Homo sapiens: one gene and its partners. The protein of the gene in region 1 interacts with the protein of each later gene in a pairwise test. Each region holds a gene or a part of one and is shown in the gene's direction. Other genes may lie near its edges.

Evidence for each region.
Region 2: the proteins of PCP2 (region 1) and GNAI2 interact in binary tests that used the Homo sapiens proteins (3 or more experiments, as listed by UniProt).
Region 3: the proteins of PCP2 (region 1) and MEOX1 interact in binary tests that used the Homo sapiens proteins (3 or more experiments, as listed by UniProt).
Region 4: the proteins of PCP2 (region 1) and GNAI3 interact in binary tests that used the Homo sapiens proteins (3 or more experiments, as listed by UniProt).

What each region holds. Positions count from the first base shown.
Region 1 is NC_000019.10:7,630,887-7,634,990, reverse strand, and holds PCP2 (Purkinje cell protein 2 homolog), read left to right. Parts: upstream 1-1,271; 5' UTR 1,272-1,370; coding exon of another isoform or gene 1,371-1,533; coding exon 1,534-1,584; intron 1,585-1,853; coding exon of another isoform or gene 1,854-2,038; intron 2,039-2,160; coding exon 2,161-2,275; intron 2,276-2,473; coding exon 2,474-2,598; intron 2,599-3,034; exon of another isoform or gene 3,035-3,182; coding exon 3,183-3,302; 3' UTR 3,303-3,376; downstream 3,377-4,104. Other genes in the region: protein PET100 homolog, mitochondrial, read right to left, coding at 3,435-3,518. UniProt on the Homo sapiens protein: May function as a cell-type specific modulator for G protein-mediated cell signaling.
Region 2 is NC_000003.12:50,245,739-50,250,225, forward strand, and holds part of GNAI2 (guanine nucleotide-binding protein G(i) subunit alpha-2), read left to right. Parts: intron 1-1,171; exon of another isoform or gene 1,172-1,330; coding exon of another isoform or gene 1,331-1,337; intron 1,338-4,487. UniProt on the Homo sapiens protein: Guanine nucleotide-binding proteins (G proteins) are involved as modulators or transducers in various transmembrane signaling systems.
Region 3 is NC_000017.11:43,658,601-43,663,676, reverse strand, and holds the start of MEOX1 (homeobox protein MOX-1), read left to right. Parts: upstream 1-1,754; 5' UTR 1,755-2,142; coding exon 2,143-2,611; intron 2,612-5,076. UniProt on the Homo sapiens protein: Mesodermal transcription factor that plays a key role in somitogenesis and is specifically required for sclerotome development. Required for maintenance of the sclerotome polarity and formation of the cranio-cervical joints.
Region 4 is NC_000001.11:109,554,650-109,559,136, forward strand, and holds part of GNAI3 (guanine nucleotide-binding protein G(i) subunit alpha-3), read left to right. Parts: intron 1-4,487. UniProt on the Homo sapiens protein: Heterotrimeric guanine nucleotide-binding proteins (G proteins) function as transducers downstream of G protein-coupled receptors (GPCRs) in numerous signaling cascades.

The sequences.
Region 1 (4,104 bases):
ATGCAATATCACTGGTGTCCTTGTAAGATAGTTATATGTCTGCCTGGTTCTGTGTAGGTGGTTGGGGGGGTGGGGAAATGGGTATATGAAGACTGGGACACAGAGGGAGAATGCCATGTGACCACGGAGGCAGGGAGTGAAGAGCTGCAGTGACAAGCCAAGGACATCAAGGACGGCAGGCCACTGCCAAAAGCCAGGGAGGGGCAAGGAGGGCTCCTGAGACCTGGTTTTCAGAGGGAGCACAGCTCTGCCAACACCTTCATTTCAGGCTGTGGCCTCTGGAACGTTGGCTCAATAAATTTGTTAAAAAAAAATTTTAAAGGCTCAGCATGGTGGCTCATGCCTGTAATCCCAGCACTTTGGGAGGCCCAGGCAGGAGGATCACATGAACCCAGGAGTTTGAGACTAGCCTGGGCAAAATAGTGAGACCTCATCTCTATATAAAAATATATAACAAAAGTCAACTTATGTGTTTTAAGCCATCTGGTCTATGACACTTTGTTCTGGCAGGCCTAGGAAAGGGATACACGTACTGAGGAGGGGGACACTTCATTGGCATAGAGGGAGAGAGTGTGAACTTGGCCTTTTGTGGAACAGAGGAGGCTCGGGCAGAGGTGGTGATAGTGCAGCCCATTCATTCTGAGATGAAACTTCCACTGGTTTCCGTAAAGGCGTCTTGGGGAGGGAAGGGAAGGGGATGGGGACCTCCCAGTGGTATCCCCTGCTTGGGCACTGAGGGAAAGCCACAGTGGCTCGGGGGAAAAGGCAGGGACGTCCTCTCCCCGCCTGCCTCTGTCCCCAGGGAGTCTCGCCTCCTGTTCCCACCTGGGGCTAGGGTGATAGAGGAGAGGAGATAGCTCAACCTGGCATTTAGGTGGTGTGGGAACAGGAGACCCCAGACTTTCTTGTTTTGGGGTCTGGGGCAGGCAACCAGGCTCCAGGGACAGTGAGTTGAAGGAAGGGTGGCTGGGAGACCCCTTGACTTGCTGCCAAGGAGACAGAGCTGGAGCTAGGGTGGCCGGTGGTGTCTGAGGCAGGTGCAGAGAGGGAGGGAGGGAAGGGGCCTTTGACTCCAACCTCCTTTTTCTGTACCGACTGCAGGTGGCAGCTGCCCTTTCAGGAGCCAGTGGGGGAACCTGGGTGGCTGGGTGGGGACACCTGCAAGTCCTCCCTAAGCCAGCTACCACCCTACACTGTTGGCCTCCCTTCTCCAACTGTGGGGATGCTGCTCAGGCCTTTTGTGACATCACACCTGAGAGTCCCTGGGGTCCAGTCATTGCTGCTGGGCACAGCGAGGTCCAAGCTCAGGTCGCCCTGCCCCCTACCCACCATGCCAGATCCAGCATCGTTGTGGGCAAACAATTATCTGGATGATCTTTATGGGGCTTAAGCTTGGGTGGGAGCAGATGGGGCATGAGCTGGGGATTTGGGGATGGGGGGAATCCACACCCCCACGTCCTGGACGTTTAAAAGGCCCTCTCTGGCACTGGGCCGGGGCAGAGGCCAGCAGAAAAGTGACTGGAGTCCAGGGACATGATGGATCAGGAGGAGAAGACGGAGGAAGGCTCAGGCCCCTGTGCCGAGGTGAGAGGGCCCTGCCCCCACCCCACCCCCAGCTCAAGGTCTCAGAGCCCATGATTGACAAGACTAGTTTGTAGGGCACCTAATTAACGAGTGAGTCTCCTAGGACCCCCTGACCCAGTTGTGGCTGTAGAAAGGGGCTGGTGGGCTTGGGGGTCTGAGTGCCAGGCCCCAGGGCAGAGGGCAGGGCTCTCCGTGTGGACCCCTATTGATGGGAGATGCTGGGACCTGGGGGTAGCTCCTGGGCCATGTTTCCCTGATTCGTGTCCCAGCTCCCAGGCCACACTCATCAGGCCCCAATCTAGGACGGCGGGACACGCATCGGAGCCTGTCCCTTGAAGCGGTACCACGTGAAGTGGCACTGCTGGCCAGGGCCCCTGGGGCGGGGGCCGGGATTGGGAAGGAGACTCATGTCTCATTCAGAACAGCTCTGCAGAGAGGATCGGCGGGGACCATGGTGAGAGCTGAGGAAGTGGGGACGGCAGGCCCCGGGGTCAGGGTGTGAGCAAGCTGGCTAGGAAGTTTGGGGAGGGGCCCCCAAGCTGAAGGGCCAACCAGACTGAGCGAGTCTGTCCCCAGGCGGGCTCCCCAGACCAGGAGGGCTTCTTCAATCTGCTGAGCCACGTGCAGGGCGACCGGATGGAGGGACAGCGCTGTTCACTGCAAGCCGGGCCGGGCCAGACCACCAAGAGCCGTGAGCATGGGCACGGGGGTGCTGTCCATGGGGCGTGAACGGGGTGGGAGTGCAGGGCAAGTGGTCATCTGGAGGGCCTGGGGGCACGGGATGTGGGAGGTGGTTGTGCACCCTGAAGCATCTGTGTGGGGGTGAAGGGGTAGGGTTGGGGGCCCCCACTCCGGCTGTGTCCTCCCAAGTCTGTGAACGTCCACGCAGAGAGCGACCCCACCCCCGAGATGGACAGCCTCATGGACATGCTGGCCAGTACCCAGGGCCGCCGCATGGATGACCAACGTGTGACAGTCAGCAGCCTGCCCGGCTTCCAGCCCGTGGGGTCCAAGGTAGGTGATGTTCTGGCGATGTCGAGGAGAAACCCGCCAGGCAGTGCTCTCCGATCCTGCCCTCCACCCCAGCCAGGAGGGAACAGGGCCTGCCCCATCTCTGTCCATCCGCTGCCCTGACTTCAGATGGGAGGACCAAGGCCCAGGCAGTGGCTAGAGGGGCCCAAGGTTATACAGGGGCCATGCTAGTGTAAGACCCATGGCTGGAACTTGTGGCTCCTGCCCCCAAGTCTGAAGGTTCTGGGGAGGCCAAAGGGAGAAAATAGGACCCCTTCCTAGGAAAGTATCCCAGGGAGGAAGTCACGTAAGCTCACACATAGGATATATACATCTGTATACTCACATCTGTTGACTTCACACATACACGAAGCTTGGGTTCTGATCAAGATCCCAGCGAGGGCCCCAAGACCTGCCACCTCACACTCAAATGCCACCCTAAATGGCAGATATTGAGGGTAAACATAGACCAGTGCTCACAATGAGGTGGGACACGGTGGCTACCTGCACCCTCTCTCCATTGTTCGCCACCTGTGGCCGGCACTGCCCTTGAGCCCTCCCCCTGGCTGACCCCTCTTCATCCACAGGACGGAGCACAGAAACGAGCTGGGACCCTCAGTCCCCAACCCCTGCTCACCCCTCAGGACCCGACCGCTCTCGGCTTCCGTCGGAACAGCAGCCCCCAGCCCCCGACACAAGCCCCCTGAGGGCCTGAGGCATCCTGGGTCTCACTCGGCCCCCAAAAACTGATAAAAGAATAAAACACTTAAATGAATAACAAGGAACTGAGTATATGTATATTTCATCAGGGGAGGGGCTAGGACTCCCACTTGGAGGCCTCAGGAGTTCTGCTGGGCGTCGCGAAGGAGCTTCTCCTCCCGCCGCTTCCGTAACCTCTCTTTGAATTCCTCTATCTCTTGAAGCTAGGGGTGGAGAAGCGGGTGGGACAGGAAGGGGGGAGGGGCACACACCTCAGAGCCGGGACCACCCCCCCCCGCCCACCTCTCCCACCACCCTGCCCCAGACCACGGCTTCAGGGTTCAGTGTCTTCACTGGAAGCCCCCTGCCAATTACAAAGGGGTCCGCGTGGGATCCGCTTCACTCTTCCAGGAGAAGGCAATAAGGAAACCATCTACTCCTCTGCTCTCGGTTCCTTACTCATGGCTGAGAGTAAAATGTTTCTTTTTGAGACAAAGTCTCACTCTATTGCCCAGGCTGGAGTGCAGTGGCGTGATCTTGGGCTCACTGCAACCTCCACCTCCTGGGTTCAAGTGATTCTTCTCCCTCAGCCTCCCAAGCAGCTGGAATTATAGGCGCCTGCCACCATGCCTGGCTAAGTTTTGTATTTCTGTAGACATGGGGTTTCGCCATGTTGGCCAGGCTGGTTTTGAACTCCTGACCTCAAGTGATCTACCCACCTCAGCCTCCCATGCCCTGGGATTACAAGCATGAGCCACTGCGCCTGGCCTAAAATTTTCATCTAAAACCCATCCCGGATACAAGAATCCA
Region 2 (4,487 bases), on another chromosome or scaffold:
CAGTGGAAAGGGCCCCACTGAGGGAGACACACCTTGCCCCAGAAAGACTTTCCCATGTGTGGGCAGGACCTGAGGCCTCAGTTTCCCTAACACAGAGATCTCTGACTTGGCAGTAGGAAGCCAGGCCCTGCTTGGTAGTGCTCCCCTTTGGGCACTGTGAACCCCTGGAAGCCGCTGGAGGCAGCCGAGTGCCAGAGACTGGCGGGAGGGAGGTGTGGAGTCTGTTGGTCTGTTCAGGCATCCGTTATAGGGCCATGCCACACACATGGGTGGGAGTGTTGCCGGTCCCTTTCAAGACCTCGAGTCCCTGCCTCCCAGTGCCGGACCCGTGCTGAGCCTTCTCGGAGGGAATGAGGGGGGCCGGGGAGCAGCACCTGGAGGAAGGAAGAGACGCCAGGGGCGGGGCTCAGAGGGCCTTTGTCTGGCGGGGTCTCTGCCCCTCCCTCCCGTTGCCATGGTTTCTGTGTGTGCCGAGTCTCTGCAGGCTGGGGGCTTCCCAGGGACGGGCTGGTGGGTGGGACACCTTCCCCAGTCGCCCCTGGCTGAGGCTGCTTTTCTGAAACAAAACGCTCCCCAGTGCTGCCCAGCCCCCACTTCCTTCCACAGTGTCTCCGGCTGCCGGGCGCCCCCTGGTGGTGGCGGGGCATGGGTCCCTAGGACTGCAGGGGACGTGGGGGTGCACGGGATCTGAGAACCACAGGCTGAGCTGGAGATGTGGCACCTTCCTGGGATAAGAGAAGGAGGTGGTGTCCGGGCTGCCTTTGTGGTGGGCTCAGGGCTACCCCCACCTGCCCCACCATATCCCACTGGGATAGGCTGGGGAGTTGTGGCAGTGTGGGCGGGCCTGGTGTTGTGGGTTTGAGCTGGGCCGCTGCCCAAGTCTACCCTGTGGTCCCAGCCGCTGCTGCTTCTGAGAATCTCTGCCCTCGGGCCTGCCACGTCAGCTGGCTGCTCTTCCTGGCCCCACGTGTTCCCACGGAGCCCACCAGTATGGGGGTTCTCTCCAGGGAGGTGTGCCTGGCTTTCTGGGTGTGTGCAGCCAGTGAGCAATGTCAGCAGTGAGGCTCCTGGGCAGGAAGGAGGCCCCAGCTGTGTAGGAGTGCCGGGTTATACTGAAGGGAAGTGACGACACAGCGGAAAGCCAACAGAGGAGCCAGTAGCTCTGACTCCTGTCCCAGGTTATGCTGAGTCCCAGCAGGGAACCACCACAGCTCTGAATCAGCCTGTTAGCCGCTGTCCATTGCTCTTCATCTGCTCTTTATCTGAAAATCTTCAGAAGCTTTCCTTCAAATGAGATGACCACAGCAGTCTTCTCTGCAGGTTGCAGGAAATGAGAGGTTTGGGGAAATCTGTACTCTTTCAAAGGGTAGATAAATAGTGATAACTTTTACCTGAATGCTCACATGTGCCCCACACTGTGAGAAGAGCTTTGCATTTAATCCTTACCCATCTCTCAGAAGGAGACAGCGTTGTCCCATTTCACAGATGAGGTGCCAGAGAAAGGGCAGGAAAGGAGCTGAAGCTCTTGAGGATCTCAGGAAGGATCAGAGTGGACATCAGGGCTGTGGCAAGTCTGGACCTCCTTCTGGGAGAGGATCTGAAAATGGGAGGCAGGCTGGCTGGCTGCTTGAGGCTTGACAGCTCTGCCCAGGGGAAACTGAAGCCAGAAAGGATAGTAGCAAGTCCCAGCCTCCCAGCAGATCAAAGCCTATTAAGGAGTTAGAGGGTCCAAGATGAACAGATGCTGTGACTTGAATGCTGGGGCCTGGACTAAGCATCAAGTGACAAGACCTGTGGGCCTGTCTCTCCTGCTGCAGGGGCCCTGCTGGTCTTGTTCACGCAGGTGGAGTGGTACTGTCTCCCTTCTCTCATCGGTTCCCTCCTCTGGGGCTCAGCACTCCCAAAGTGGAAGCAGATGTTCTAGTGCAGAGCAGCTGCCACCACCCAGCACATCACTATGATTACTGCCTACCTGCTGTGGGCCCTAACTGCGCCACAGGGCAAAGGCTGCAGAGGTTTCTTCCTTGGTGGGAAGAGGTGTGACTCAGTGGGAATGCCAAGGCCACCCCAGGGAACCTCTGCAGGCCTCTCTGGTCTTACCCAGCTGGGGACAGAGCACTTGGTGGGGCCCTCTGCGGGCAGGAGGGGCTGATTCATGCCACCTTCTATTGCCTCAGTTCCCCTACCCAGCATCTTTGCAGAAATCTGGACTCAGGCTGGACGCGGTGGCTCACGCCTGTAATCCCAGCACTTTGGGAGGCCAAAGCAGGTGGATCACTTGAGGTCAGGAGTTCGAGACCAGCCTGGCCAACATGGTGAAACCCTGTCTCTACTAAAAATACAAAAATTAGCCGGGCGTGGTGGCACATGCCTGTAGTCCCAGCTACTGGGGAGGCTGAGGCAGGAGAATTGCTTGAACCGGGAGGCAGAGGTTGAACCGGGAGGCAAAGGTTGCAGTGAGCCAAGATCATGCTATTGCACTCCAGCCTGAGCAACAGAGCGAGACTGTGTTTCAAAAAAAAAATCTGGACTCAGCCACCCCTCTGAGAGGCAGGTGCGAGGGGAGCTGGGTGTGTGCAAAACTCACAGATAAGCCTCTTGCCAGCTTATCTGGTAGGGGGCATCCCTCAGGTCCTGATGGAAAGAGGACCCAGCCAGAGATGGGGAGAGTGAAGCTACTACCCCACAGCTGCCAGGGCACTTAGCCTGTGGGCTGCCCGAGAGCTCTTCACCCCACCCATTCCACCCAGATGCCATCCTGGGGCTCCACCCACCTCTGCTCCTGTCCCCCTTCTCTGCTGGAGCTGCTCCTGGGCTGTGCCCCTGCCTCTGTCCCGTTGTTCCCCCTGCTTCCTGCCTGGCTGCCAGCACCACACCCTTGTCCTGCCACTCACTACTTCCCGCCTGAGTCACAGCTGCTGGAAAGACAAAGAGACCAGCCTGAGTCTAGGGATAGGGGCTCCATGACCTTGATTTGCTTACCTGTCAAGTGGAACTCTTTTTTCAGTGACCCCTGCTTGGGATAGAGAATGTTCTCTTAACATTTAAGAGGCCTTAGGAGGGGAAAATGAAACTTGAAGGGGACAGGGAAGTGGGCCCTCCCTGGCTGGGGCAGGGAGCAGATATCCTGGCTCCTAGTGTGACTGGCTCTGTGCTGCCTACCTCATGTCTACCAGGTCTAGCTGCTGCTAGGAAAATCAGATGCAAAGCAAGTTTGCACCCTCGTCCCTGGGCAGGGTCACGAAGCGGCCCACATCACCTACTAAGAGTGGGCAAAAGGCCAGACCCCCTCTTCACTCTCAGTGGCCAGATAGGGAAACTGATGCCTCAAGTGGGCAGGAGTCCCGAAGTCACACAAGATGGGGAAGCTTTCACCCTAGACCTCAGGTCCCCCATGCCCTGGGTAGCTTCCCTGCTGAGTCTGAGCTCGCCTGGCTCGGGACTGCATGGGGACCCATGACTTCGCATCCTTGGCCTCTGCTCCTGCAGTTCCCCCCATCCTGGCTGTGACTGGCTCCTGGTTCTTCCTCCTGCTCTGGAGGAGCCAGTGGGGAAGACAGTCAGGTAGCCACTGCTGCCCTCCCTGCCCCAGTGGGTGCTTTGAGCCCCAGGGGGATGGGCCTTAAGTGTTCAGGCATCGCTGTGAGGCTTTCCTGGGACCTTTCCCCATGTCCTCATTGGCAGGTGGAGGAGTGTTGGTATGCAGATCCTGGCTGCCCCTTTGCCATGCACAGCCCAATGGGGAGGGAGTGGTGCTGGTATATATCCCGGTACACACCCCAGTGAAGATACTGGGCCCGGCCCCTGTAGTGCCCAGGGGCTAAAGCAATAGAGGGGATTGCTGCCCCAGCCACAGCGCCCCAGCCTTCCCAGGGCCTGCACATTTGTATGTCCACAAGATTGTGCAACCATCACTGCTATCTAATTCCAGAACATAATCACCACCCTCAAAAATAAACTTCATACCCAACTAGCTGTCACTCCCCATCTCCCCAGATCCCCTCCCCTCATCCTGGAAAGCAGGCCTGGGACAGTCAGAAGCTCAGTGATTGCAGGCGCCTGATGGCATTTGTGAGGAGGGCTCAGGCCTTTCCCCTCAGGGTGGTCTCTGGCGTAGGGGGCTGAAGGTGGGCAGGGGCCTTGGCAAGGCCTGCCACCATGTCCCAATGCCTGCTGCCGCTTGTTGAGCACTGCAGACATGGCCCAGAGTCTGCCTGGGGAGCTAGGGAGTGAACCCAGTGCCAGGTGGACTGTGTGGCTCCGCTGCAGTACCAGGTACTTAGGACAGCTCTAGGAGGGACTGCACGGTGGGCAAGTGTGCTCCCTGCAGAGGGGACTCTAACCCTGTGACCTCAGCCTCCCTGGACCTCAGTTCCTTCACTGGTTAGATTGGGGTGAGAATGGAACCTACCTCCCAGGATTGCTGTGGAGATGGCAGTTGGTGGGTGTCATTGATGTAGAGCAGCATCTGGCACATGGTGGGCGCT
Region 3 (5,076 bases), on another chromosome or scaffold:
ACACAGCCAGGAAGTGGCAGACCTGGGGCTTGAACTCAGACCCGTCTAACCTCAAACCCCATGCCTCCTCCTCTGCATCTGGCCTGCTCCAAACTGAACAGCAGGACACCTGAGGCCAAGTGCTGATTCCACCATTTCTTAGCTGTGTGAGTCTGGGCAGCCCAGTCATCCATCTGAGCCTCGGTTTTGTCATCTGCAAAATGGAGACATAATTCTTACTTACCCATCCTAGGAAAGTTGTGAGGCTCAGAGAATTGTGTGTGCCACAGCTAAGCCCTGGGCAAAGCAGAAAGATGAGTCTGGTTGACAGCTATGACCCCATCCACTCTACTGGTCTACAACACTCTGACCGCTTGTTCCAGAAGAGGGCACATCTTTTCATATGTACACCCCTCCCCATCTTTTACAGCTGCTCCTGCTCCCAGGATGTGTATCTGACTGGAGTTTCTGGATTAAAGGCCAGTCGTGGCTTCATTCCACATCCCTGGGTGCCCTTCGGCTCCTCCTAGGAGCATCTCCTGCACCCACCCCCCAGGGCCCCACCTCCAGGCTGCAGAGCTAAGACCTAGGGGCCCCTCCTCAGGGAACCCTCGCCGTCTTTGGAAGCAGCCAGCAGAGACGCTGCTGTTAAGGTCCATGCCTGTTTCTGCCCCCATCCTGCTGCTCTGGGCCATGGGAATAACCAGTGGGGAAGGAGTTCTGGCCCCTGGGTGTTAGGAATGTCGTCCTCCAAGAAATTGCATTAACCCTCTGAGAGACCAGCAGGGCGCAGCCATGAGGAAGACTGGGCATCAAGATGGCACTTGGGCTGGCTGCCCTGTGATGTGCACCAGCCCGGAGACCCACGTGCCTGCTTGCCAAAGAGGCTCCTTTGGGGAATGAGGAGCCCCTGATTCCTATTTCCCTACCCCAAATTCCTCGGAAGCCTCCGCCTCTGGGGGATGAGAAAGGGAAGCAGGTGGGTGGAGGTGAAGGGGGCAGGGAGCAGGTGGGAGGAGACCCGAAGAAACTTCAAGGACCTTATTTAAGAGCCTTGCCATTGCTGTGAAGAAAAATGACTTGAAACCTCTCTAGAGAAGAGTGTGGCTAATTGGCATGTATGTTGGAGGTTAAAGAGCGGAAGGAAGAATCTGATTGTTTTTTTAAGTTACTGAGAAAGTGAGAATGTCACTCTGGGCAGAGAGAAATTCTTTTTTTCTAGAGTGTGCCTTTCTTTGTACTGCAGACCACAGTGGGCCGCTGAGACTTGCAAAAAAGATTTCTTTTAATCCACCTTCCTTTTTCGCAGGCAGCAGTAGAAGGGCCTTTAAATCAAATGCAATCACCAAGCTTGTCTCTTGCTCTTATTCCTCACTTCACTCCCTGGAATTTGGCATTTGATGGATTCTGGATCTGACTTAAGGCTTTTTCTAAATCCAAGACTTGGGGAATTTTGTTAACAGTGCAATAAAAATAACTTCATAGTGTTACAGGAGGCACATTAAAGACGGTGTGTGTGTATGTGTGTGTGTGCTGCTCTCTTTCCTTAAAAAAAAAATACAGACAATGTTTCTTTAAAAGTCTCCATCTGCAAATCCCATTAGATGTGCATATAAGGTTTCTGATGATTAATAGTTGCCTGCTAGGGTTTTGGTTGGAGGGGATCTTGTGTGTGTGGGTTAACCCCTCCCTCTCCTCTCTCACATTTCACTTCAGAAATTTGTCACTCTCTCCCCACCGCAGGATTTAAAAGTGTGTCCCAGCAGCCCTGGTCCAGCCCTCTGCAGGCATTTGCTCTGGGCTCCAGGACGAACTCCTCGTCAGCTGGTGCGTCTGGGTTGGGACAGTGAAAATGTTTAGTGTCATTGGCGACAAATACACATACAGGGGATCCCAGTAGGTAGGCTGGTGCATTGGAGGGGCAGGAGCAAGCCCGACATAGGTGTGTGCACACACATAGGAGTAGCTGGCCACATGTGTGTGTACTTTAAGGAGAGACTTTAGTTTTGGGTTTTTTTTTTTTTTTGGTTCCTGGGGTAAATTTTCTGTTGAACATTTTTCCCTCCTATTTAGTTTTTTTTCTTTTGCATTTTTAAAAATTTGAACATAAAAAGTATAAAGAATCAAATCTTTGAAAGGACCGAGGCGTGCAGCGGACAGCAGATGGATCCCGCGGCCAGCAGCTGCATGAGGAGCCTCCAGCCCCCAGCCCCTGTCTGGGGCTGCCTTCGAAACCCCCACTCGGAAGGCAATGGGGCCTCAGGGCTACCCCACTACCCGCCCACCCCGTTCTCCTTCCACCAGAAACCAGACTTCCTGGCGACAGCGACGGCAGCGTACCCTGACTTCTCAGCCTCCTGCCTGGCAGCCACCCCACACAGCCTGCCCCAGGAGGAGCACATCTTCACTGAGCAGCACCCCGCTTTCCCACAGTCCCCCAACTGGCACTTCCCTGTCTCAGACGCCCGGCGCAGGCCCAACTCAGGCCCGGCAGGGGGTTCCAAGGAAATGGGGACCAGCAGCCTGGGCCTGGTGGACACCACAGGAGGCCCAGGCGATGACTACGGGGTGCTTGGGAGCACTGCCAATGAGACAGAGAAGAAATCATCCAGGCGGAGAAAGGAGAGTTCAGGTAGGTGGCTCAGGAGCAGCTGATCATTCCTTTACTGTGTGACCCTGGGGAAGTTACTCACCCTCTCTGTGCCTAGGTGCTCTGAGCATGAATTTCTGTCTAGTCCATCCAAATGCAGGAGACTGGACCAGTTACCTTTGGGGTTTCTTCCACTGAGAGTTCTAGGATTCTCTGGTGATGGGGACCATGTCTGTGTCCCAGCACTCCTGGGCCCCAGAAAGGGTGTCCAGCAAGAGAATGAAACAGGATCAGCCAGGATTTGGAGGACACGTGAAATGGATCCTCTGGGTGCAGACTGGCGAGGGCTGGTGAGGGGCTTTCCTGAATCAGGCTGCCATTGAGTCATCCTCCTCCCCACCATGCTTTGGCCAGCCCCAAGTGGTCCTAGAGCCACAGGGCTCGCTTACCAGGGAAGTTCAGCTGAGGTTAAGGCTCTGAGAGCTAAGACTGAAGCTGGGACCCTGGGTGGCCACCCAAAGCCAAGACCCTATGTGTCCAGGAGCCTAGAGGCAGAGAAGCAGGCCTGCGGCTGGGATGGGAGAATCAAGGGGTGAGGGGGAGATGGAGGGCTGAGGTTTGGGGCAGACTGCCCACCAGATATCACCCTGCGGAGCTGGGCCATGTCCAGGCCAAGGGGACAGACAACTCAGCATGCTGAGATCTGGCTGACCCCCCAGGAAGGCAGCCCCGCAAGGAGCTGCAAGGGATGGGCAGCCTCTGAGAGAGTCAGGGAGGCAGGCAGCCAAGGGAGTCCGTGCTGGAGTCCCAGAGGCTGGAGGATGAGATTGGCCTATTTGTTAAGATTCCAGCTAAAGCCCTTCTCTTCCCCAGGGTGGGGACCTGCTGCTTCCTCACCTCCCCACCAGGCCCTCCCTGGTTGCTCACTATACCTGTCCACCTTTTGTCTGGTTCCTTGTCCCGGCCTCGTTCAGAACAAAGCAGTGACCAAGCCTCCTGCCCGTGCTGCCCTGTTTTCCTCCTGACAGCCGCCCTCAGGGGCACGCCTGTCTGTCGGAGCCTGTAGAGGACCTTCCCATGGGGCTAACCAGGGCAGGACAGAAAAGAAGGACACCAACCAACAGGTGGGAATGCTTTGTGCTTTGCTTTATAAGCACAGCTTTCCCGAGTTTCTGCTCTTAGCCAAGCCCAGGAATGCTCTGAGATGAATAAAGGGGTCTCACCCAAGAAAGCTCAAACTGAGAGGAAGAAGAGGCCTGCAGAGGTGTGTCAGCAGTGGGATGTGCCCTGATGGGGAGGCTTAAGGTGCCATGGGATACTGACGTCAGCTCTTTTGAGTCCCACGGGTTTGGGAGATGGGGACAGCAGGTTTTATTAGTACCTTGATTCTCTCAATCTGCAAAATGAAAGACTGAAAGTTGGTGAGAACACAGAAAGAATGGGGTCAAACTAGAGTGAGCAGCTCATCTCCATTTGCCCAGGACTTTTCCAGTTTTAGCACTGAAAATCCTGTCGTAGGAAACCCCACAGTCCCAGGCAAACAGAAGAATTGGTCACCCTAGAAGTGAGCTCAAACCCCAGGCTTCAGGCCCCCGGTATCACCCCCTTCAGTAGATTTCAAATGCAGTCCTCATTTTGAAATGATGTTTGGTCTGTCTGCTTGAAGAAGCCCCTTCTTCAATGGGAGATAGGAACTCTAGCAGCCCTCATGGCTGCTAAATAGAAGGGCCCTTTAAACCGCCAGCCAGTTAGATCCCCATCCCGAAAATTAACTCATCCTGCCCCTGGTAGGAAATGTGCTAAGGATGAGAAGCAACTCTCAGCGACTTGGCTCTGAACCTGGTTGAAGAGCTTTCCCCTTGGTGGCGGCACGCAGCACTGTGGCTCCTTCCTCTCTGCCACTTTCCAGAGAACTGACAGCCAAGGGCATTGGGAAGGGATAGCAAAGCCAAGAGCCTGCTGGGCTCAGGCAGAATCTTCCAGCATTCCGAGTCTCAGCAAAACCCAAATGCACCAGCTCTCTTTTTGGCGAGTGGCCGATGGCCCTGCAATGCAGAGAGACCATTCACACTAAGCAGCTGGCCACCCAGGAGTACAGGGACACCCTCGGCTGAACGGCCTGCATGCTTCAGGGTCAGACTTTGGTGGAGGGAGGTTCCCATCCGCAGGGGCCCTGGGCTTCCCTAAGGGTCCCCTCAGGAGCACCAGCAGCAGATGAGGCAGGGCCCAGTGAGCTGACTCTCACTCATCCCCCTGTGATTCCAGACAAACTCACTGTTCAGCATGGAAATCTTTATTGCCGCAATGCTTGCATCCTCCTTTGGAATTTAACTGAAGGGGAGGAAGGAGGCAAGAAAGATCAGCTTTGTAAGAGCCCAAAGAAGGGGGAAAGTGACGCAAGGCTCATGACCTACTCCAGGAATCTGGAATTCAGCTCAGAAAAGGCAAACCCACAGAGAGCCCCCCACCCAACCCTGCCAATCCTGAGTCTATAATTGGATCCCCTC
Region 4 (4,487 bases), on another chromosome or scaffold:
ACTCTGGGTTGTCTGTACTCTGCTGATTTCTTTTGTTGCTCAGAAGCTTTTTAGTTTAGTTGAGTCCCATTTATTTATTTTTATTTTTGTCTTTGCATTTGCTTTTGGGTTCTTGGTTGTGAAGTCTTTGCCTAAGCCAATGGCTAGAAGGGTTTTTCCAATGTTATCTTCTAGAATTTTTATGGTTTTGGGTCTTAGATTTAAGTCAGTAGCCCTATACACCAACAGCAACCAAGCTGAGAATCAAATCAAGAACTCAACCTTTTACAGTAGCTGCAAACAAAAAACAAACAAACAAACAATACTTAGGAATATACTTGACCAAGAAGGTGAAACACCTCTACAAGGAAAACTACAAAACACGGCTGACAGAAATCATAGATGATACAAACAAATGGAAACACGTCCCATGCTCATGGATGGGTAGAATCAATATTGTGAAAATGACCATACTGCCAAAAGCATATCTACAAATTCAATGCAATTCCCATTAAAGTACCACCATCATTCTTCACAGAACTAGAAAAAACAATCCTAAAATTCATGTGGACCCAAAAAAGAGCCCGTATAGCCAAAGCAAGACTAAGCAAAAAGAACAAACCTAGAGGCATTAGATTACCTGACTTCGAACTATACTGTAAGGCCATAATCACCAAAACATCATGGTACTGGTGTAAAAACAGGCATATAGACTAATGGAACAGAATAGAGAGCCCAGAAATAAAGCCAAATAACTTCCAGTCAACTAATCTTCGACAAAGAAACAAAAATGTGAAGTGGCGAAAGGACACCCTGTTCCACAAATGGTGCTGGGATAATTGACAAGCCACATGTAGAAGCATTAATCACTTTTGCAGTCTGAAAATACGGCCCTTTTCAGGAATTAAAATAATGTAATTTTCCCTGACTACGCTATTCCTGTAGTACACTGATGGCCATAGAGTAGGGTGCTTAATACTAGATTTCACAGGGCATGTAAGGTTCTAATAAGCGCTGCTACTACGTTTCTTTAAAAAATAATTTTTAGCATACTAAACTTATATGCATTATTACAAAAAAGTCTTTTAGTTTTTAGGCAGTTGTCTCTAATAAAATTGATTCGTAGTCTAGAGATCTTTTAGAGATGGTTAGTAAAACCTGAAGCACTATGCTGTTCCTCCCCCGTGGTGCTGAGCTTCTGCATCCTCTAGCTTGGGAAGGAAAAGGGAGTTGTTAGGCCTCTGCAGATACTTCCTTTTTTCCTATCCTGTCTCTCTTCCTTCCCTGGTTTCTTCTACAGCATACTTTCTCCTGGGGAAAGGAGTGCGTGCGTGCGTGTGTGTGTGTGTGTGTGTGTGTGTGTGTGTGTGTTTGTGTGTGTTTCATCAGGTCCTTCCATTAACTTCCATTCTTTTTCTTTTTTTTTTTTGTTGAGTCTTACTCTGTCGCCCAGGCTGGAGTGCAGTGGTGCAATCTCAATGCAACCTCTGCAACATCACTGCAACCTCTGCCTCCCAGGCTCAAACGATCCTCCCATCTCGGCCTCCTGAGTAGCTTGGACTACAGGCTAATGCCACCACCGTTGGCTAATTTTTTGTAGAGATGGGGTTTTGCCATATTGCCCAGGCTGGCCTTGAACTTCTGGGTTCAATGATTTGCCCACCTCAGCCTCCCAAAATGTTGAGATTATAGACTGAGATTATAGCCTCTAACTTCCATTCTTAAAAGTCGCTCATCTGTAACCAGGAAAAAACAATATAGAGAGACAGATGGCAGGAAAATCAGTAGCTGTGCAAAAATGGAATGTTCAAAACGCGGAAGAAAAAACTGAAACATTGTGAAGAGTCTTTTGGTTCCTTTTTTAGAGGACAATTTTTTACTTGGAATTTTTGAAAAATCTGTTTTCTCTACTTGAGATGGCTTCTCTTTCTGCTTTTCCCCCAGTGTATTAATGAACTATATCCTGCTACTTACCTCAAGTCAGTTTATCCAGTATAGAACTTGCCTTCACTCCTCACCCCCAAATCCACCTGTTGGGAACTTTTCTGTTTCAGTACCAGCATTCTCAACTTCATCTAGGCTGAAAACTGCAGTTGTTTTTAACTCCTCTGTTACTCTCATCTCTTACAACCAGTCAGTTGCGAAGTCCTATGACTCAGTCATTACTAGATTCCAGATTTTTGGACTTTAAGGACCAGAAAAATTTTTAAAAACTTGTTTTTGGTAGACTGACCTAGGATTTTAATATTTTATTTTTCTTAGTAAATACATTTTAAAAATCTCAGACTACTGTCTGTTATGATTACTATTTAGTTCTCTTTCCTCCCGAGACAGTCTCACTCTGTTGCCCAGACTGGAGTGTAGTGGCATGATCTTGGATCACTGCAACCTCTGCCTCCCAGGTTCGAGCAATTCTCATGCCTCAGCCTTCTGCGTAGCTGAGAGTACAGGTGTGCACCACCGTGCCCAGCTATTTTTTGTATTTTTAGTAGAGACGGGGTTTCACCATGTTGGCCAGGCTGGTCTCAAACTTCTGGCCTAAAGTGATCTACCCGCCTCGACCTCCCAAAGGCTGGGATTACAGGTGTGAGTCACCATGCCTCGCCATTGGTGAAACTGTTTTGATGTTCTGAATTGGATATGATATGATCCTCTATTTTTGAAACCTCATAGTACTTTTTATGCCACTTATAGTCTGCCTTATATATGGTTATTTATATACTTACCTGGTCCTAACCATATGGTCTTTTAGGGCAGGAGGACTAAGTATTTCTCATCTTTTTGTCTGTTGCAGGACTTAATAGAATGCTAAAGTGTTTTTGCCCATAAGGAATAGGAACACCACTCATACAAGTCACAAGTAAAAGAGAGGTATATTGAAAGGACAAAGTAGGCAACTTCATAGGTGTTAGACATTCAAGAATAGGTAAGAAATGAAATACAGGTAGGTTGTATGTACATGGACTGTGATACCCAACCCCCACCCTCTCCCCTATTTCTCCTAGAGCAGAATGGCCTCCCCCGAGTCTTCAACTTTTGTTTACTCTGACATCTTCTGTGGCTCACGCACCGCCTGACCCGGTAGTTCAAGTGCTTCATGTTATCTGATGCAGGCTCCCAGGATCCCATTCCCGGTTCCTGGTAAAGAGTATCAGATTGGCCCAGCCTTGTCATCTGCCAACCACAATCCAGTCATGTATGGTTGGGTATAGCAGAGTTGATGGGGTATCATGAGTTTTATAAGGTGACCCTTTCAAGGACTGGAGTAGGTCAAATTCTCTATTAAATGCATGGCCAGAGAGTTAATGTTTAATAAAGAGATGACAGTGCCTGACACCTAGTAGGCACTCACTAAATATAAGTTGAACATAATGGAATGACATGGGAGTATTGAGGAACTAAACATATCACTGCTTTACTTTCTCATTAGTTCATGAGAACGTGCCTGCTCATTCTCAATATTACCATCTTGTATAGTTGGGAGAGAGAACTTAAATTCAGATTTAAAATTAGGCCAGGCATGGTGGCTCATGCTTGTAATCCCAGCACTTTGGGAGGCTGAGGTGGGCAGATCACCTGAGGTCAGGAGTTCCAGACCAGCCTGGCCAACATGGTGAAGCCCCGTCTTTTCTGAAAATACAAAAATTAGCCAGGCGTGGTGGTGCACACCTGTAATCCCAGCTACTTGGGAGGCTGAGGCATGAGAATCGCTTGAACCTGGGAGGCGGACGTTGCAGTCAGCTGAGGTGGAATGACTGCACTCTAGCCTGGGCGACAGAGTGAGACTCTGTCTCAAAAAACAAAAACAAAAACAAAATTTAAAAATAAATTGAAGTAGGGTACAGGATTTTAAAGTCCCATTATCAACACATTCAACTCAGAATAGTTAATGTAACCTGAATTTAATTACCTTTGATTTTAATTTAGGAATGAATTTTTTAAAATGCATATAACCAGCTCAGGGTCTGTGCTTCATCATCACCCTGGCTTTTTTTTTGTGCTAATTTTTCCTCTTACTACTTTTATGAGTACCAGAAAATTATCCAAAGCTAAGAGAAGAAATAAAACACTGTTTTTGCTCCTTATTAATAATTTGCTTCTAAGTTTTTGTTAGAGAGTAGGTAAAAACGTTTGGCAAAGTAGATTGCTCATAGAGTTTAGCTATCCATGCTTTGTTTTTACCTTTAGTTTAGTTTTATGGCAGGGGAATAGGACTTGTTGAAGGGAGTGGGAAAGAAGGGATGCAGGTCTTCATAATAAGGAATGTCGGCCAGGCGCAGTATCTCACACCTGTAATCCCAGCACTTTGGGAGGCCAAGGCAGGCAGATCACTAGGTCAGGAGTTCGAGACCAGCCTGGCCAGCATGGTGAAACTCCATCTCTACTAAAAATACAAAAAATTAGCTGGGCATGGTGGTGCGCACCTGTAATCCCAGCCACTTAGGAGGCTGAGGCGGGAGAATTGCTTGAACCCAGGAGGCAGAGGTTGCAGCGCGCTGAGATTGTGG